Linked DNA regions of Homo sapiens. The protein of the gene in region 1 interacts with the protein of each later gene in a pairwise test. Each region holds a gene or a part of one and is shown on either strand. Other genes may lie near its edges.

Region 1 (7,039 bases):
CTTGTAGTCTAGAAAACTCCTTTTATCACCTCAAGGTGATAATTTGATGTTGATTTACACCATAGTTTATCAGTTCTGTCCATCTTATCACTAATCTGTTTTGTCATTTGGGCCTTATCAGTTTGTTTACTTATCTTTGTAAATATGCCCACCTGGGATATGGAAGATGTAGGATGGAGGAAGGAAAAGTATGACCATTTTTTTTTTTAATTACATAGAAAATCTGATAAATAATACTGATTATTCCCTATGTATGAAGATGTTTTCTGGGAACAATAAATAAAAATATTGTTTTAGAGCTAAAAGAATCCTTAGTTGAGGAAGCTGAGGCTCAGAGGAGTTAAGGGACTTATTTTGGATCTCAGAGCAGTTTAGTGAGCCTGTGTCAGACTACAGCTCTCCTCATTCCCATTCCAGTGCTCTTGCTGCTCCCCTCATTGGTGGTCCACATGGAAGTACCTGGTGCGATACAAAGGCAAAGAAATACTTTAGTTAAGAATATTTACAGCCTGTAATCCCAGCACGTTGGGAGGCCAAGGTGGGTGGATCACAAGGTCAGGAGATCGAGACCATCCTGGCTAACATGGTGAACCCCATCTCTACTTAAAAAAATACAAAAAATTAGCCAAGCGTGGTGGCAGGCACCTGTAGTCCCAGCTATTTGGGAGGCTGAGGCAGGAGAATGGCGTGAACCCGGGAGGCAGAGCTTGCAGTGAGCCGAGATCGCGCCACTGCACTCCAGCCTGGGCGACAGAGCGAGACTCCATCTCAAAAAAAAAAAAAAGAATATTTACAAAGCAAACCATGTGGGACATTCATAACAGTGGCAGTGGAGGAAGGATGAACAGGCATAGATCACTGTGGGGGCTGGGAATGAGTGTGGCATGGACAGGACTCAGGAGCTGTACCACATTTCTCAGTGGTGGAGTGCTGAAAGCAGCCGGGTTAAGATTATCTTTGAGTCTGCGTATTTGTACTTAACGATTGGTCTACTGAGGAGTATCTTATACAACTTCTTGCAAGGCATCTTGGTTGTGACCACTGATGTCAAGATTACATGTTAGAAGAATGCAGCTAGATTTGGTAGAATAAACAGAAATTTATAACCTTGTTATTAAATTAACAGTGTCAACCAGTAACCATTACTAGCGTTTTAATTAGAGATACTTCTGTTATCCTTTTATGTGCATGCCACATTTAGACGGATGTCTTTGTGTGTGAAGACAGTCGTTGTTGTTATTTGTATAACACTTGTAATAGATATAAATATTATTTCATCCTACATGTGTACCTTGCTTTCAGCACTGCAGGTTGCATTTGGTTCACTGTATCGAGATGATGTCTTGATAAAGCCCAGTCGAGTTGTTGCCATTTTGGCAGCAGCTTGTTTGCTGCAGTTGGTAAGTATGCACGTTATTCGAAGAAAGGTTCAGAATAATAATCTTTGTCTCAAAGTGTGTACTCCAAAAACAAAAATAAAGCTTAGCTTTTTTGGAGTTTTTAAATAAAAATGAAATGTATAAATATGACATTTATTATAAATCATTTAAAATGCCTAACCAAAAGCAATTTATTACAACCGAGGGAGTCATGATGTCTGCATAAAATGAATGCAGGCCATTTCTGTGTAGATATCTTAGTATGACTATAATGTGGAAAAAACGTACTTGTCTAAGGTCATTTACAGATTTCATTAATGACTTGACTATTAAGCAGATGGCTTATGATTACCAATTAATTTCATTCATGGGTTCAAATAAACATGCATGCCTACTATTTAAATTTCTCTTAATTTTGAAAGAATTGTGTATAAATCACATATATGTATTTTAATCTACTGGCAGAATGACAGATTTGTTCATTGAAGAGAAGTGTGTTGAGCACTGTGTCAAACTAGACACAGAAAGCCAAAGGTAACTTAAGACGTAATCCTTACTTTCAAAAAGTTCACAACATAGTATGTATGTGTGGAGAGGGGAGGGAGGGTTGATATACAAACCCAAAGGTAAAGTAAGAGCTGTTCAATATTATAGGTATGATAATAAACATCCTGTAGCATTTAGTGAATGGATAAAGAAGGGAGTGGTCAGTTCATCCTGGTGGTGTCACATACGAAAGTTACATTTTCACACAGAGTCTTGAAAGTGTGTTTGTATTGCAAAGTAAGAAGAGGGGAAGGAAGAGCATTTCAGACAGAGAGAACAGAGTAAACTAAGATCTAGTGATGTGAAATAATGGAGGATTCAAGACTCTAACAGAAACATGGCTCCCACATAAACATAAGAAGGATTGCAGAAGAGGGGGGCAGAAGCCAGATCATGAAAATACATCTATACATTGCTAAGAAGTTTAGCATACACAGTACCTTTGGAATATTTTAATCAGGGGAAAGACGAAGTTATGTTTTAGAAAGAATACTTCAGTAACAATGTGACAGATGAATTGAAGGAAAGATGAGTACAGCATTAGAGACAAAAACTTGTTGCATTCGTCCAAGGGAGGAAAGTAGGGTAGTAGCAATAAGCTTGGAGGGGAAAAAGTGGATACCAGAGAGATTCAGGGATAATCCACTGGACTTGGTGATAGACTAAATGTTAAGAGGAAAGGGGAGGAGTCTAGAATGATTTCCAGGTAAGTTTAAAATCCTAATGGAGTCAATGTTTTATTTTAATCTTAAAAAATTGTTTACTTTTATGTGGTATTTTTGTACTGATTTATTTGAAGTATTAATAGCTTGCTAAATATCCTTGGTTGAGATCATTTGATTTTCAAAATGTTTTGATCCTTTCAATACTTACTTCCAATAAGTATACTTTATTATCTAACTCTGGTCCTTTTGGTTTTGTTCTAAATTCACCTTCTGCTTACTTTTATGATTTACTAACTCTTTAACTTAATATACCTGCATGATGAATGTATTTCAGAAATTTGAATGAAAAGTAGTATTCTTCCCATATATTAAAGTTAGTTCACTTAAAACCTATATAAACATTTTAGGTTAAAACTTTAATGTTAATCATTTGAAATAATAATATACTTGTTTTAAGTCTATCTCTTAGATATTGTAGTTATTTTAAACTTGATCACTTTCTGCTAATGCATACTGTTAGTTTAGTCCCATCACATGGTTAACTGACTATGTAGACTTCTTAATTTAAAAAGAAATGGCAAAACAGACAAAATGCTGCTAAAGAAATTTGCAAAGGTCTCAGACAGGGGAAGAATAGAAAAGAAAAAGAATAGCAGTATTCATTCTCTACCTTACTACTCCCCCCCACCTTCCATTTTCAAATTCCAAGTATTTAGTTGAATACTTGCTGAACTTTTTTCAGTATTTTTATTGGACTTGTTAAAAAAAAAAAAAAAAACTTAGGTTTGCTGCACTTAATGAGTTTTCTTTCTTTTCTTTCTTCTTTTTTTTTTTCTTTTACTTTTTAATATGTAAAAGCTGTCAGAGCTAATTTTTCCCACGTGAAATGGGCCTTTCCAGTGCTTATTTATATTTACAGGACGGTTTAATACAGCAGTGTGGTGAGACAATGAAGGAAACAGTTAATGTGAAAACTGTATGTGGCTATTACACATCAGCAGGGACCTATGGATTAGATTCTGTAAAGAAAAAGTGAGTTGCCTTTCTTGTTTTTCTTCCTATCCCACTTTTAGGAATTTGGTTGCTTTAGTTTCTTAAGAGAATGTATAGCTATAAGAAAGAAAGAATTAAGGAAAAATAGGATAGGGGGATGGAATTTTATTAAATAAAAAGCCCCTTTTAACTTTTGGACTAATTAGTAAATTCCTCAAAAGTGTCGTCTTTGTAAGTGACCATAGGTGGGTTATATACATGCTTATAAAAACCATGGTCACCTTGGTCGGGTGTGGTGGCTAACACCTGTAATCCCAGTGGTTTGGGAGGCCAAGGCAGAAAGATCACTTGGGCCCAGGAGATTAAGACCAGCCTGAGCAATGTAGGGAGACCCCATCTCTACAAAAAATTTTAAAAATTAGCCAGGCATGGTGGCATGCACCTGTGGTCCCCACTATTCTGGAGGCTGAGGTCAGAGGATTCTTTGAGCCCAGGAGGTTCAAGACTGCAATGAGCCGTGATCATGCCACTGCACTTTATAGTATATTTTCTATTAAAATTGTTTAAGAAGTAGGCCTGATAGACTGACAGTCCTTCTAACTCTTGAGAGTTGCAGTACCTGTTTTGAGATTTTAAAGAAGGTTATACTAGTATGCAGACCCCTTAATAAACTATTTAACACAAACTCAAAATGAAGTTTTAAAACTGGAAATGCTCTCGTTAATATAAAGGAAATATTCTCTTAATAATATCCACTGACAAAAATAATACTAAATTTCCTATTGTTAAGCTAAAAGTTTTGAGCATGTTCTGGCAAGATTAATCTGATTTTATTTTAACTATAAGTCCTACTTAATAAATTGTAAATACATGGCATATAATGTAATAATTATATATTTTAATTTCAGGTGCCTTGAATGGCTTCTAAACAATTTGATGACTCACCAGAATGTTGAACTTTTTAAAGAACTCAGGTATTTGAATTTCAAGTAACTTCATAATTAGTCATCCTAAAATATTGTTTATCATTTGTTAAAGTACATAACATTTTTGTAGAACACAAAAATATATTATGAAAAAGCAAACAATTTAATGAAAGGGCTTGACTACATCCATAAACTGAAGAAATGCTGTGCAAACTTATTTCTTTGTTGTGAATAATATAATGGATATTATGTCTACTGTTTTAACCGAAAAATGCATTACTGTTATAAGACTATAGAAAAGTTTCAGGTTTTGCCAGGCTGTTAGAGAATTTAAAAGTTATATTTTAAAAATCATCTTTTTTATTGAGAAATAAGTTTGAAGAAACTGTTTTGGCCTTTTTTTTTTTTTTTTTTTACCTTCAAAAACTTTTCATGTTGATCCGTTTTCTCACTAGGATGAATTCTCTGATGTGGAGTAACAAATGTGTGTCTCCTATAAATGTATATTTTTCCATCTCTGATTATTTCACACCTTGAATCCAAATCTGTAGTCCCAGCTACTCTGGAGGCTGAGGCAGGAGGATTGCTTAAGCCATAGAGGTCAAGGTTGCAGTGAGCTGTGATTGCGACACTGCTCTCCAGCCTCAGTGAGAGTGAGACAAGTTACCATGGTTCTTCACCGTCACCTCCTGGTACAAGGTCTTCTGAACCAGGTCAAGGTATTCCCACTCCTGATGAGAGAAGTCTGTGGCCATGTCCCTGAATGTTACAAATTCACAGGCCATGGTTTTAGACAAGCAAAAGCCAATCAGTCCTCAGGGTTTCTCTACCAGAAAAGCGATTTGGGAAAACCTAGACCTATAATCCCAGCACTTTGGGAGGCCAAGGTGGGAGGATTGCTTGAATCTAGGAGTTCGAGATCATCCTGGGCAACATAGTGACATCCCCTCTCTTTGAGAAAATATCAATCTTCCTTTAAAAAAAACCTGTTAGCGCCACACAGGGTCCCATGCAGGCTTCAGGCTGGGGCTGCAGAGGCTCCTGCAGTCAACTGCGCCGCCTTCGTCCTCAAGCGGGACCTGGTCAGACGCAGCACAGCGCAGAGCCAGAGGTCCTGGAGATGGAGCCAGAGGTCCAAGATTTCTCCATCACCTGTGGACTATGTAGTCCAAGCTGGAATAATAGGACCGCAGTCACCCGTGAGAAATGGATTCCAGGGTTCTAAAAACCTACAAGAAATATGGCGGTGACAATGAGGACTGCCCACCCTGCCCACCACCCAAGCTGCAGAGCAGCCTTTCTTTTTTAAAGAGATGGGGGCCTTGGTATGTTGCCCAGGCTAGACTCAAACTCCTGAGCTCAAGCAGTCCTCCTGCCTCAGCCTCCAAGTAGCAGGGATTATAGGCACATACCACTGCACCCAGCTTAGTTTGGCTTTTTGGATTAAGTACGCATATTATCCATTTATTCCTGCAGCAAGTACTTCCTGACTGTCCTTTATATGTAAAGATACTCTATTAGGGGCTGTGAAGAATGCAGAGATGATTTTGTCATGGTCTCTTGCTGTCAAAGAGCTTATTTGTAGTAATGGGACTAAGATATTTGTGATGGGTCTGAGAAAATCTGGCTAGCAGTTAACTTTTGAAGGCTGGTTGGCATTACAGTCATTTTCTGGCTTGCATTTCCCTGACAGCAGTGCTTCTGAGACAAGGATACAAATGTGTCCGAGAGTATGTGACATTCTGATGGAAATGTACAAAACCAAAGTCAAACATTACATAGCTTCCCAGAATGTGAATTTTACTGATTTTTTTTTTTTTTTTGGTGGGGAGGAGGTGGGGAAGAGGTAAATATTTTTATGTTTAAATACATTATGGAATAGAGGGAATTCAAATTTCCTTGAACTCTCAAGATACAATTTATAGAAATGTTACTTTTTATGGTTAGACCACCTCCTAGATTATGGGGTTTTTTTCCTTTCTTTTGCCTTTACGAGATAATTTGGTAGAGAAGTGTGAGAGACTTTCATCACCTGGTGATGTCAAGGCATAAATAAATCACCGTAGAATGTTTGATTTGAAAATCGTTAGAAACACTTTAATACAGTCAACCCTGCTTATCCATGGGTTCTCCATTTGTGGATTCTACCAACTGCCGATTGAAAAGATTTGGGGGAAAAACTATAAAAAATAATAACAAAAAAACCCAATGTAGTATGACAACTATTGCATAACATTTACATTGTATTAGGTACTGTAAGAACACCTAGAGATGATTTAAAGTATATGAGAGGATGTGCATAGGTTACATGCAAATACTATGCCATTTTATATAAGGGACTTGAGCATAGAGGATTTTGGTATTTGTAGGAGGTTCTGAAACCAATCCCCCACAGATACAGGGGGATGACTCTAATTTCTCACTGAACTTTTTGAAAAAGGAGCAGGATCCTCTTAAAAACCCACGTGCTCTCTTGGCTTTTTATGGCTCAAAGGAAAGAAAGAACAAAGGAAAAGCAAAACAAAACAAA
Region 2 (7,036 bases), on another chromosome or scaffold:
ATATTCAGCCATAGAGTACCGAGAGCAGTGTGCATCAGCTAAGAAATCTCAAGTCTACCACATGGATAGGATTTCGGTTACAATTACAATGTCAATTTCTGAAGGATCGATTAGCTGAATGGATTTGAGGACTATGGAAAATCTTACAGTCATGACACCCATTACTTATTGAGGTAAATAGAAACTTCATTTTGTTCAAATAAAGTTATATTTAGGTCCAAAGGTCCTAAATGTAATATTCCATAAATGAACCCCGTGAAGAACAAAGCACCAAATATAACATTGTTTGTGAATCACAGAAAATATACTGTCCCACACTGAGAATAAGGGAGTGGGAGGACAGCAATTAATGGGCATTGTTGTCAGTCAGATTCTAGAAATTTTTAACAGTGCATCCCTGGAATAATCCATGACCTCAGTTACATAAATGTTTTGTTTGAAAATATTTTATCTAGGAGAAATTATTTCTATCTCAATGTTAATCTCAGGATAATTCCTTTTTTGCTTTTTCTAACCATAAAAGGATTTAATCACCTCCTAAAAGCCACTTAGAAAATAACTAAACCAGCTACCTGTATGGCAGTATCCTCATTTATCCAGCTTTTATCAAATGTACCATATAAAAACATCAATCAAAGGAAACAGTGGCTGACATTCAGTGACTCGGTTTTTGGAGCTGCTCCTGCTCCTCTGAACTGGGTCTATTCTTGGGTCAGTACTAAGCTACCTTACAGTAAAGCCTTTGAGTTTTAAGCATTTTCAGCAAAATCATTTCCGTTTTTACAGCAACATAGATGGTAGGAAGACACAAACCTTGGAACAAAATACAAATTTTGTATTCACCAGTCAAGGGCTCTTGGATAAAACACAATCCCAGCGCCTCCATTTTCTCATTCATAAAGATGAGAACTTTTATCATAGTGAGGGATTTGCCTAAGCTAAGCTGCAAACTACATAGCCTCCTCGCTTTTCCAGTCAATTTCAGGCATTCTTTCCATTGTTTTCTTTCCTCCTCTTCCTCCTATGTGACAATGCCTAACACACACACACACACACGTGCACACACACACACACGAACACACACACACGCACACACCAGCAGACGTTCTTCTTCCCTTTCCCTCACCTTGACCTGCAGATGCTCCCTCATCCTCTCCCTCCTGAGCAGCTGCAGGATCCTGACGTTGAGTTGCTGGTTCCCCTTCTTCAGGTGTTGCTGGTTCCACTTCATCACTGAACTGCTCGGGCTGGGGAATACGTGTGGGTGTGCAAATAAAAAATAAGTTTCGTTATTGATACAAAATTTTACATATATACACAGAATACATAGCTATTTCTGGTCCTAACTAAGCCTAAAGACATTTCTCCAACTCTATGCTCTATGCCCAATAAGGTTACTCGACCCACAGGAAGGTTACTATGAGAAAAGTGACGCACGAGGACTTTGGAGGCTATTATACTCAGTGTTGGAATACATGTGTACAATCTGTCATTAACAAACAAAGCCTGAGAAAGAAGTCATGGGCAAAAGCTGAAGAACACTAGAGGAAAAAAAATTCTCCAGAATCAATGTTTCCTTCATGAGACGCCATCATCATTTTTTATGAGCAGGAAAGACCTTTATCAGCATTTCCATACTAATGCAACAATACTGTCACAAAAATTAATTTCTGCTAATAGAAAACAACGAATTAACGTTTAAGCACTCACCAGCATAGGCCCAATCATTTCAGGGGGCTCTACGTAGCGTCTTGGTCTAGGCCGATAGGTCGATCTTCCTCGCCAACTCATATTTCACACTGAAAACAGACAACCGTGATTGGGAACGTGCGCTCCACAGGGCTGCTATATTCGATCACCTCCATGGATAAATGTTAACTTGTCGTTTTAATTTTGAAAATACTTTCAAAATAAGTCCCAGAGTTAAGCATATGTGTGTACCTTTTCTGAGTGCCTACAAAGCCACTTATGCTGGCCAAGCTGGCAGAGCAATCATCTTAAGGCGTGTGACAAAACGCAGAGGACATTTTTTTTCTAAATTTCTTTTGGTCCCGCAGTCTCCCTGTGTTGCTCTGGCAGAGTGCAGCGGCGTGATCACAGCTCACTGCAGCATCGACCTCCTGCTCAAGGGATCCTCCCACCTCAGCGTCCCGAGTAACTGGGACTACAGGCGCAGGCCATGGCGCCCCACTGGCAGAGGTCATTTCTGATGAGGTTTAGTTTCACAAGTGGACTCCACATGAAAACATTAGTGAATCATAATTCTCGTGATTGCTACTTTGGGCACACTCCCACTTACTAGAGCCATTCACTTCTCTCAAATCAAGTTTGATTGGACCGCACAGCCTCTCCCAGTCCTTCCCACTGTTGCCAGACCTTCCATGGCGGAGGTGAGATCTTGCGATGCTTCTCACTCGGGGCTCCCCACTCCACAAAGCTCAGGGGCACTCACCAGCCCGCAGTCTTCCCAGGTGCCAGGTCCCTTCTTTATCGCCCTCCTCGCACCTGTCCGGGACCTCATTCAGGGATCTCCCCTGTATCGGGTATTCCTGGCACCTCCGGACTTCCATCCCTCTGACAGCACACCCAGCAATCGCCCCTTCTTCACCTGAGCCCCTGACCGCCTCCCCTCCATGGCCCACCTTCCTCCTTGTCCTGGCCCCTTCACGACCACAAAGCAGATGGTGGCCTCACAGCCTTTGAGAGAAGGAGGACGACCTCAAGGCCCTTCTCTTTCAGAGGCCAGGAGCCCCTTCCCTTTCAGAAGCCTCGAGGCCCTTCTCCCTCAGAGGCCACAGACCACGAAGCAGGACCCAACGGACTCACCCGAAGCACACTGCCTGCTCTTCACCCTCACTCACACTTCAGACCCCGGGAGGACTGGCCTGCAGACCTACCAGATGAATCTCAGTAGAGGAAAAATATTCCAGACGACAGGAACGAGACCACACACCCTCACAGCTCCCTGGCGTTCTCCACGTGGGTAAAGCGGCTGAGCAGAAGACGCCCAGTGGACATGCGCACTGAGGCGGGAGCCAAGGAGCATGTACAGCTGCGGGTTGGGGAAGGCTGCCGTTCCCAGCCCCACGCCCCCAACCCTCGATTCCCATCCCCACTGAGGATAATGGAATCTGACCTCCCTCTGCTGTTTCCTATGCCTCTGGGACTCAAGTAGTGCTCCCCTCAAAACTCACTCCATCTTCAACTAAACCCCCCTCCCCTCCAGGGCCCTCTCTTGCCCCGGCCCCACCATGGGGACAAGGACCACGGTGACTGCCTGAGAAGACAGGTAAACCACCTGCGAAAACAGAAATAGCAACCTACCCCAAAAAGAAATTGTTAAATGTGAACAAGTCAGAGAAAGAGACTGAAAGAAAAATGAATACAATCTCTAGGACCCATAAGAAAATACTAAAACGATATCTATCATTTGTAGCATCAGAATCACAGAAAGAGAAGTGCCAGTATTAGAGAAACAGGAGAGCCAGAGTGACACCATGTGAAAATCAACTCCATCTTGAAACTCGCAAGACACATTCCTTACCAGTCACAACCCATGGTCCTAAGATGTTTGGAGTTGAGAAAACAGACGAAAGGTACCTCCAAGGACATGCTCCCACAGCAGCAGAAAGTGCAGGGTTCTCAACACCCATAACAATATATGCTTTCAACATAATTATGCTTTCATGGACTTACACACTGGAAAGTCAAGGATAGTTTTCTTTAAATCAATAGAATGATAAATTTCATCATGCCCTTAGCACACCCTCACAAAGATACAGATAAGTTTAGTCTTTACATAGAGAAGACCCTTGTATAAGAAAAACTGGCCAGGCCAAGACTCATGCCTGTAGTACTAGTATTTTTGGAGGCTGAGCTGGGCAGATTGCCTGAGCTCAGGTGTTCGAGACCAGCCTAAGCAACATGAGAAAATCTCATCACTACAAAAAAAAAAAAAAAGAAGAAGAAAAATTAGCTGGGAATGGTTACATGTACCTATAGTCACAGCTACTTAGAAGCCTGAGGTGGGAGGATCACTTGAGCCAAGAAGGTCAAGGATGCAGTGAGCTCTGATAACACCACTGCACTCCAGCCTGGGTGATAGAATGAGACCCTGTCTCGATTTTTAAAAATAGAAGATAAAAATGTACAAAGTTATCAATCTAATTCACTACATTAACAGATGAATGGGAAAAAAATGCTGTTATAAACAAAATAGATGCACTGATGAAACTCAACATATATTCAAATGAATACTCTCAGCAAATTTGGAACAGAATGGAATGACTTACTCTGATAAAGTCCATCTACAAAAAAAGGACAGTAAATAGGATGGTGAAATGTTGAAATTTTTCGGTTTCTCATCAGGGATAAGACAAGGATATTGACTGTCACCATTTTAACAGGTGGGTCTGCACAATGCCATAAAATCAGAAAAGGAAATAAAACTCTTTACAATGGCAACAACAGGCCCGGCACGGTGGCCCACGTCAGTAATCTCAGCACTGTGGGAGGTGAGGCGGGTGCATCACTTGCACTCAAAAGTTCAAGAACAGCCCGGGAAACATGGCAAAACCCCGTCTCTACAAAAAATACAAAAGGAAAAAGAAAAAAAAAATGGCAGAAACAAAATTGTTCTTATTCAAGGATGGTATGATTCTGTATGTTGAAGACTGAAAACCATCTAGAAGTAAACTTTTAGAATTCATAAGCATATTTCACAAGGCTGCTGGATAGAAAATCAATATATAAGAATTATGTCTCGCCCGGGCGCGGTGGCTCACGCCTGTAATCCCAACACTTTGGGAGGCCGAGGTGGGTGGATCACGAGGTCAGGAGTTCAAGAGCACCCCGGCCAAGATGGCGAAACCCCGTCTCTACTAAAAATACAAAATCTGGCTGGGTAGGTGGTGGGCTCCTGTAATCCCAGCTACTCGGGAGGCTGAGGCAGAAATTGCTTGCATCCAGGAGGCGGGGGTTGCAGTGAGCAGAGATCACACCACTGCACTCTAGCCTAAGCAACAGAGTGAGACTCTGTCTGGAAAGAGAAAAAAAGAAAAAAAAAAAAGGAATGATGTCTCTGCATACCAGCTGAAACAGTTAGAATATAAAATTTCAAAGAATGATACATATTTCACAGCATCAGAAAGCTAGAAATAAAATTCACAAAAGATGCGCAAGACTACTTTGCAGAAGGCTGTAAAGCTTTATTGGGAGAATTTTAATGAACAAATTTCCAACATAGGAGCAGCCTGCATCATTTCAGCTTGTCTTCTTTTAACTCCGTGATTGCTTTTCACCTGTAACAGAAACATAACAACTGGGAACATTACTTAACAGCAGTTTATTTATATGATTCTAAAGGCATGTAAAGCATACTACAGTTTGGGTTTTATTAAATAGACAAAAAAACAGAACCCTAAAGGTGATCCTGTGTCTTACATCCAATTAAACCTCTGTATACACTTTGAGGGTAGACCTCCAGAATTTAAAGGTAATTTCTTACCTATACATCAAGTACCTCCTTTAAATTCAGAAGCACTTATAATGAATGGTCAGCAATTTGGAAAACACATATGTAAAACATATTTCAGTTGATTACTCAGGAAGTACTAAAGTCATGGTCTTTGAACTTCAAATCTTATCAACTCATGTCTCAAAATCTGAAACTTACGTGTAACATTTGATATGGTTAGAGGTGATTATATCACTCTATCCACAGTCTTATTAGAAACAGTGGCTCATGCAGACTGACTGTGGGGCAGGGAGCATGCTTAGCACAAGCATCTTACTCACACCCATCCTGAGCATCACTGACCTTCATGCCACAGAAAATAGAAACTAAACAATCTATCACCTTTTGATTATTCACTCACTCAAGGTTTCCTTTGTGAAAGATTTAAAAAGCAATTATTTATTAAGAGCCAGAGAATCCCATCCTGGGCAACATAGTGAGACCTCATCTCTACAAAACTTATATCAAAAAAACAAAATTAATCGGGCCACGGTGGCTTGTGCCTATAGTTCCAGCTACTCAAGAGGCTGAGATGGGATGATCGCTTGAGCCTGGGAGTCAGAGGGTGCAGTGAGCTGAAGTTGTACCACTGCACTCCCGCCTGGGTGACAGAGTGAGACTCTGTCTTAAAAAAAAAAAAAAAAAAAAAAAAAAAAAACAGCAGCAATAGCAAGATGGCCAAATAGTAATACCTCTGGTCTGCAGCTCCCAGTGAGATCAAGGCAGAAGGTGGGTGATTTCTGCATTTCCAGCTGAGGTACCCGGCTCATCTCACTGGGACTCATTAGACAGTGGGTGCAGCCCATGGAAGGCAAGCCGAAGTAGAGTGGGGCACTGCCTTACCGGGGAAGCAGTAGGGGTCGGGGAACTCCTTCCCCTAGCCAAGGGAAGTTATGAGGAACTGTGCTGTGATGAACGGTGCATCCAGGCCCAGATACTATGCTTTTCCCATGGTCTTCTCAACCCACAGACCAGGAGATTCCCTCCTGTGCCTATGCCACCAGGGCCCTAGGTTTCAAACACAAAACTGGGCAACCGTTTGGGCAGATATGGAGCTTGCTGCAGGAGTTGTTTTTCATACCCCAGTGGTGCCTGGAATGCCAGCAAGACAGAACCGTTCACTCCACTGGAAAGGGGGCTAAAGCCAGGGAGCCATGTGGTCTAGCTGAGCAGGTCCCACCACCACGGAGCCCAGCAAACTAAGATCCACTGACTTGAAATTCTCACTGCCAGCACAGCAGTCTGAAGTTGACCTGGGATGCTCAAGCTTGGTGGGGGGAGGGGCGTTTGTCATTACTGAGGCTTGAGTAGGCAGTTTTCCCCTCACATTATGAACAAAGCCTCCGGGAAGTTCAAACTGGGCAGAGCCCACGGCCGCTTGGCAAACCCGCTGTAGCCAGACTGCCTCTCTAGATTCCACCTCTCTGGGAAGGGCATCTCTGAAAGAAAGGCAGCAGCCCCAGGCAGGGGCTTATAGATAAAACTCCCATCTTTCTGGGACAGAGCACCTGGGGGAAGGGG
Region 3 (3,356 bases), on another chromosome or scaffold:
AATACTTCCACTCTTTTGTATGTAAGATTTGATAAACGATAAAAACCCAAGTAAGGCCATTATTATCATCTTGATCAAAAATATACACAGATCGTGATGCTACTATATTGTGTGATCCTGAGTTCTAGTAACCACTAGATACATGCATACCATTCACTGATTTGTCTATTCTAATAAAAATTTAATCCTGTCTTACTACCTTTGAAGACAGAAATACTTTTAAAACTTTTTGATAGGTCTTCATAACATTACAGATTATCTGCCATAAACAGAGCATTAGGAATTGTATGAGAAAGGGTATGTTAGGTCCCAAAAGACTATTAAAGAAAACTTACTATTTTAAAATAATGACAATATCAAATTTGAAAAGAAAGAAAAAATGACAGAAAAAGTGTGCTTGCTGGAATAGGTAAGTTGAGCCTTACAAAGGTGTTTTTCTCTGTTAAGGAATTTATAAATAAAGGACTGTGTGTACCTTGGTGACAAAATAAAAAAGGCTGGCCACTTTTTATGCTAAGTTCAAATGTATTTTTTTGATAATACAAAAAAGTAATCCTTGAAAATCAGAATACATAACAGAAAAGAGCACAATAACTTAAGTATTAAACATCTGTATGAAATAACTGTTGCAAAGATTGACAAAAATGCACACTTAGAACATGCGGTTATTTAAAAAAAAAACAAAAACAAAAACAAAAAAAACACCACACGATTCTGTAGAACCAATGTTATGTCACCACCAGGAGAGCACCAAGCAAGGCACCATTGGAAAGACAACATACTTGGAAAGTCTCTATAAATAAAGTAAATGCTAATCTGGTCGAAAAATCGGTGTCTTTGGTAAAAATTCTATGAGGATGACCTGTAAAAGGAGAAGAAAAAGGTTTTAAAAGATTTAAACAAAATTTTTTCTTAAAACTTCAATTATATGCTTTCACAATTTTTTTGAAAATCCATTCACATTTTAAAACGCAACTTTGCATTACTAAAACAGATCTTTATCTGATAATGCAGAGTTCCATCACTGAGAATTTTTCTTTTTATTTCTGGACCTTTACCAAATACACGAAATACCTTGGCTCTATGAAAAGGAAGACAAATAAGCAAGTAAAATCACCAAAGTCTGAGAAGGGTGATATAGATAGTGCCCCTGATACACTGGAGGAGCAAACATGCATACATGCACGCTCCCCTGCACTCATGAGAAAAGAGGCTAGTATTTACTTAGAACTAACTGTATACCAGGTGTTCCATACTACATTGGGTCTCTTTAAACCCAACAACTTTTCTATGAGGCAAGTATTATAATCCTTATTTCACAGATGAGGAAACTGATGATCCAGAGAAGTTGTATCACAATTGAATGTGGAGTCACTGTTTGAATAAAAGACTGTCTTAACTCCAAAGCCTTGCCCTTTATACCACCCTACGTGACTGCAGCTCACCCAACATTTTTCTTTAGACTTTCTCCTTTTTAATCAACCCAACTACATGAGTCTTCTCTAAGTTCTAGAGTTGCTCTCATTTTACTCTACCAGAATATGTAATCTTTAGATAAAAGGTCCTTTATCTCTTAATTTTTTAAAAAGTCCATTTCTTCTTAGGTTAGCAAAATTAAAGGCTAAAATTTGTTCCAAAAGGCCTTTTAATAGGAAACTAAAGGAAAACCAACAAAAACAAAATATGGTAACACAGAATTACACAAAGTGACCAGAGCTAATTTTTCCAAATTTGAATTTTCTTAAATTACAGTCAACTCTTTCTTTTGCTCCAAATTTGTATTAAATAGATGGTGATTTAAAAATTATTTGATTTTAAAAGTTTCTAAGTCTAGTGAACTCATCATTCTTTTTCAGAAACTGTGTCTTGCTTGATATGACCTCCAGATTTCAATACTTCTACAAATTAGCTGTCTGGGCCAGGAATCTTCATTTTCACTCTTCAGTTCTCCTGGCTTTTGATCTGCCTCAATAAAGAAGATACACTTCTATACCTGGCTCAAAAATATTCCTGTCCTACTCTAGGTATCCTGCACTAAGGCTTAGCTGTCACATTTGCCACTCTCCTGACCTGTGATTTGCCTACAAAATATTCACTAGCTCCCTGTTAAAATACTTTCTCCCAACTAGCTTCTTCATTTGAGCTAGATTTTCCTGTTTCTCAGGTTTCTTATCTATAAAATAAAAGCATTGAACTAGATAACAAGATTCTTTGCAGCTTTAAAATTTGACAATTAAATGTTTAAACTACTTAGGAGTCAACATTAAATAAATAATTTTGTATTTCAAGTATGTCCTCAATCAGTCTTTATAATTTTAGTCCCCAGGTATGGGCATCCCCACACTTTATAATATACACTTTTAATACATAACATAAAATAAAGGCTATCTTTGCCTACATTTGAACTATTAGTTTTTAAATAATATATTCTACAAATTTTTCCTTCAGAAGCCACACATAGAGACTGGCCACTTGTCTCATTTATTCTAAATCATCCATCTCTACCATATCTGAACAAAGAAAAGTTAGTGCCAAGGTGGAATATATATATATATATTTTTTAGTATCTCCAATGTTCAAATTATAATCAAGGATAATTATTTTCTTTTAACAAAATTAAATTCCTGTAAGTTAAAGAAAAGTTGAAGAAAAGAGGGACACATGGTTAAAAAGGCCCAAATTCATTAGATAAAATGAATTTTATTTGCTAGTTTAACTTTTAAAATTCATTTTTATAAATTTTTTAAGCTACATTATTCTCACTTTCAACTATCACAAATATATATATATACTCTAAGAAAATCCAGCAGAACACATTTTTTCTCCCCAGCTTATTATTATTTTTTTTAAAGAGAGGTGGGTATTGCTATGTTACCCAAACTGTCTTTGTACTCCTAGACGCAAGTGATCCTGCTGCCTCAGCCTCCCCAGCTAGACTACTGGCATGCCCACTACACCCAGCTTTTTCCTGGCAATTGAAATATTTATTTTATCTTTACTACTCTTCTGGGTATCTTCTATGATGGAGTGAAAATAATATAATGGCTTTAGCAGAAGTGCTTAATTATCTAAAAATTCAAGGAAACTTATTTGACAAACAAAGCATATAGTTCAGAATGTTTTGGAAGGTTATAAATTATTTTATGAATAAATTATAGTCATATAGTTCTATCTGGAATTCATAGCATTGGGATAACTTTTATGTTTTCCTTTCCAAAGTAAATTTAGAAATGCATGAAAAAATTAATACCTCAGTTTTAAGCTTAGTGTTTGTGTTATAAATGTAGTAAATATTTTTTTCACTAAATTCTTTACATCTCCTATCCATCCCTCTCCCCAAAATATATACATAAACC

What was found. Proteins that work in one complex are often made in the same cells at the same time.
Region 2: the proteins of GMCL1 (region 1) and GAGE10 interact in binary tests that used the Homo sapiens proteins (3 or more experiments, as listed by UniProt).
Region 3: the proteins of GMCL1 (region 1) and CHIC2 interact in binary tests that used the Homo sapiens proteins (3 or more experiments, as listed by UniProt).

Annotation. Positions count from the first base shown.
Region 1 is NC_000002.12:69,839,640-69,846,678, forward strand, and holds part of GMCL1 (germ cell-less protein-like 1), read left to right. Parts: intron 1-1,302; coding exon 1,303-1,400; intron 1,401-1,843; exon of another isoform or gene 1,844-1,913; intron 1,914-3,448; exon of another isoform or gene 3,449-3,476; coding exon of another isoform or gene 3,477-3,509; coding exon 3,510-3,622; intron 3,623-4,491; coding exon 4,492-4,557; intron 4,558-4,945; exon of another isoform or gene 4,946-5,228; intron 5,229-7,039. UniProt on the Homo sapiens protein: Possible function in spermatogenesis. Enhances the degradation of MDM2 and increases the amount of p53 probably by modulating the nucleocytoplasmic transport.
Region 2 is NC_000023.11:49,299,615-49,306,650, reverse strand, and holds the start of GAGE10 (G antigen 10), read right to left. Parts: upstream 3,006-7,036; 5' UTR 2,898-3,005; intron 1,800-2,897; 5' UTR 1,792-1,799; coding exon 1,711-1,791; intron 1,287-1,710; coding exon of another isoform or gene 1,248-1,286; coding exon 1,127-1,247; intron 1-1,126.
Region 3 is NC_000004.12:54,009,284-54,012,639, forward strand, and holds the end of CHIC2 (cysteine-rich hydrophobic domain-containing protein 2), read right to left. Parts: intron 863-3,356; coding exon 812-862; 3' UTR 506-811; downstream 1-505.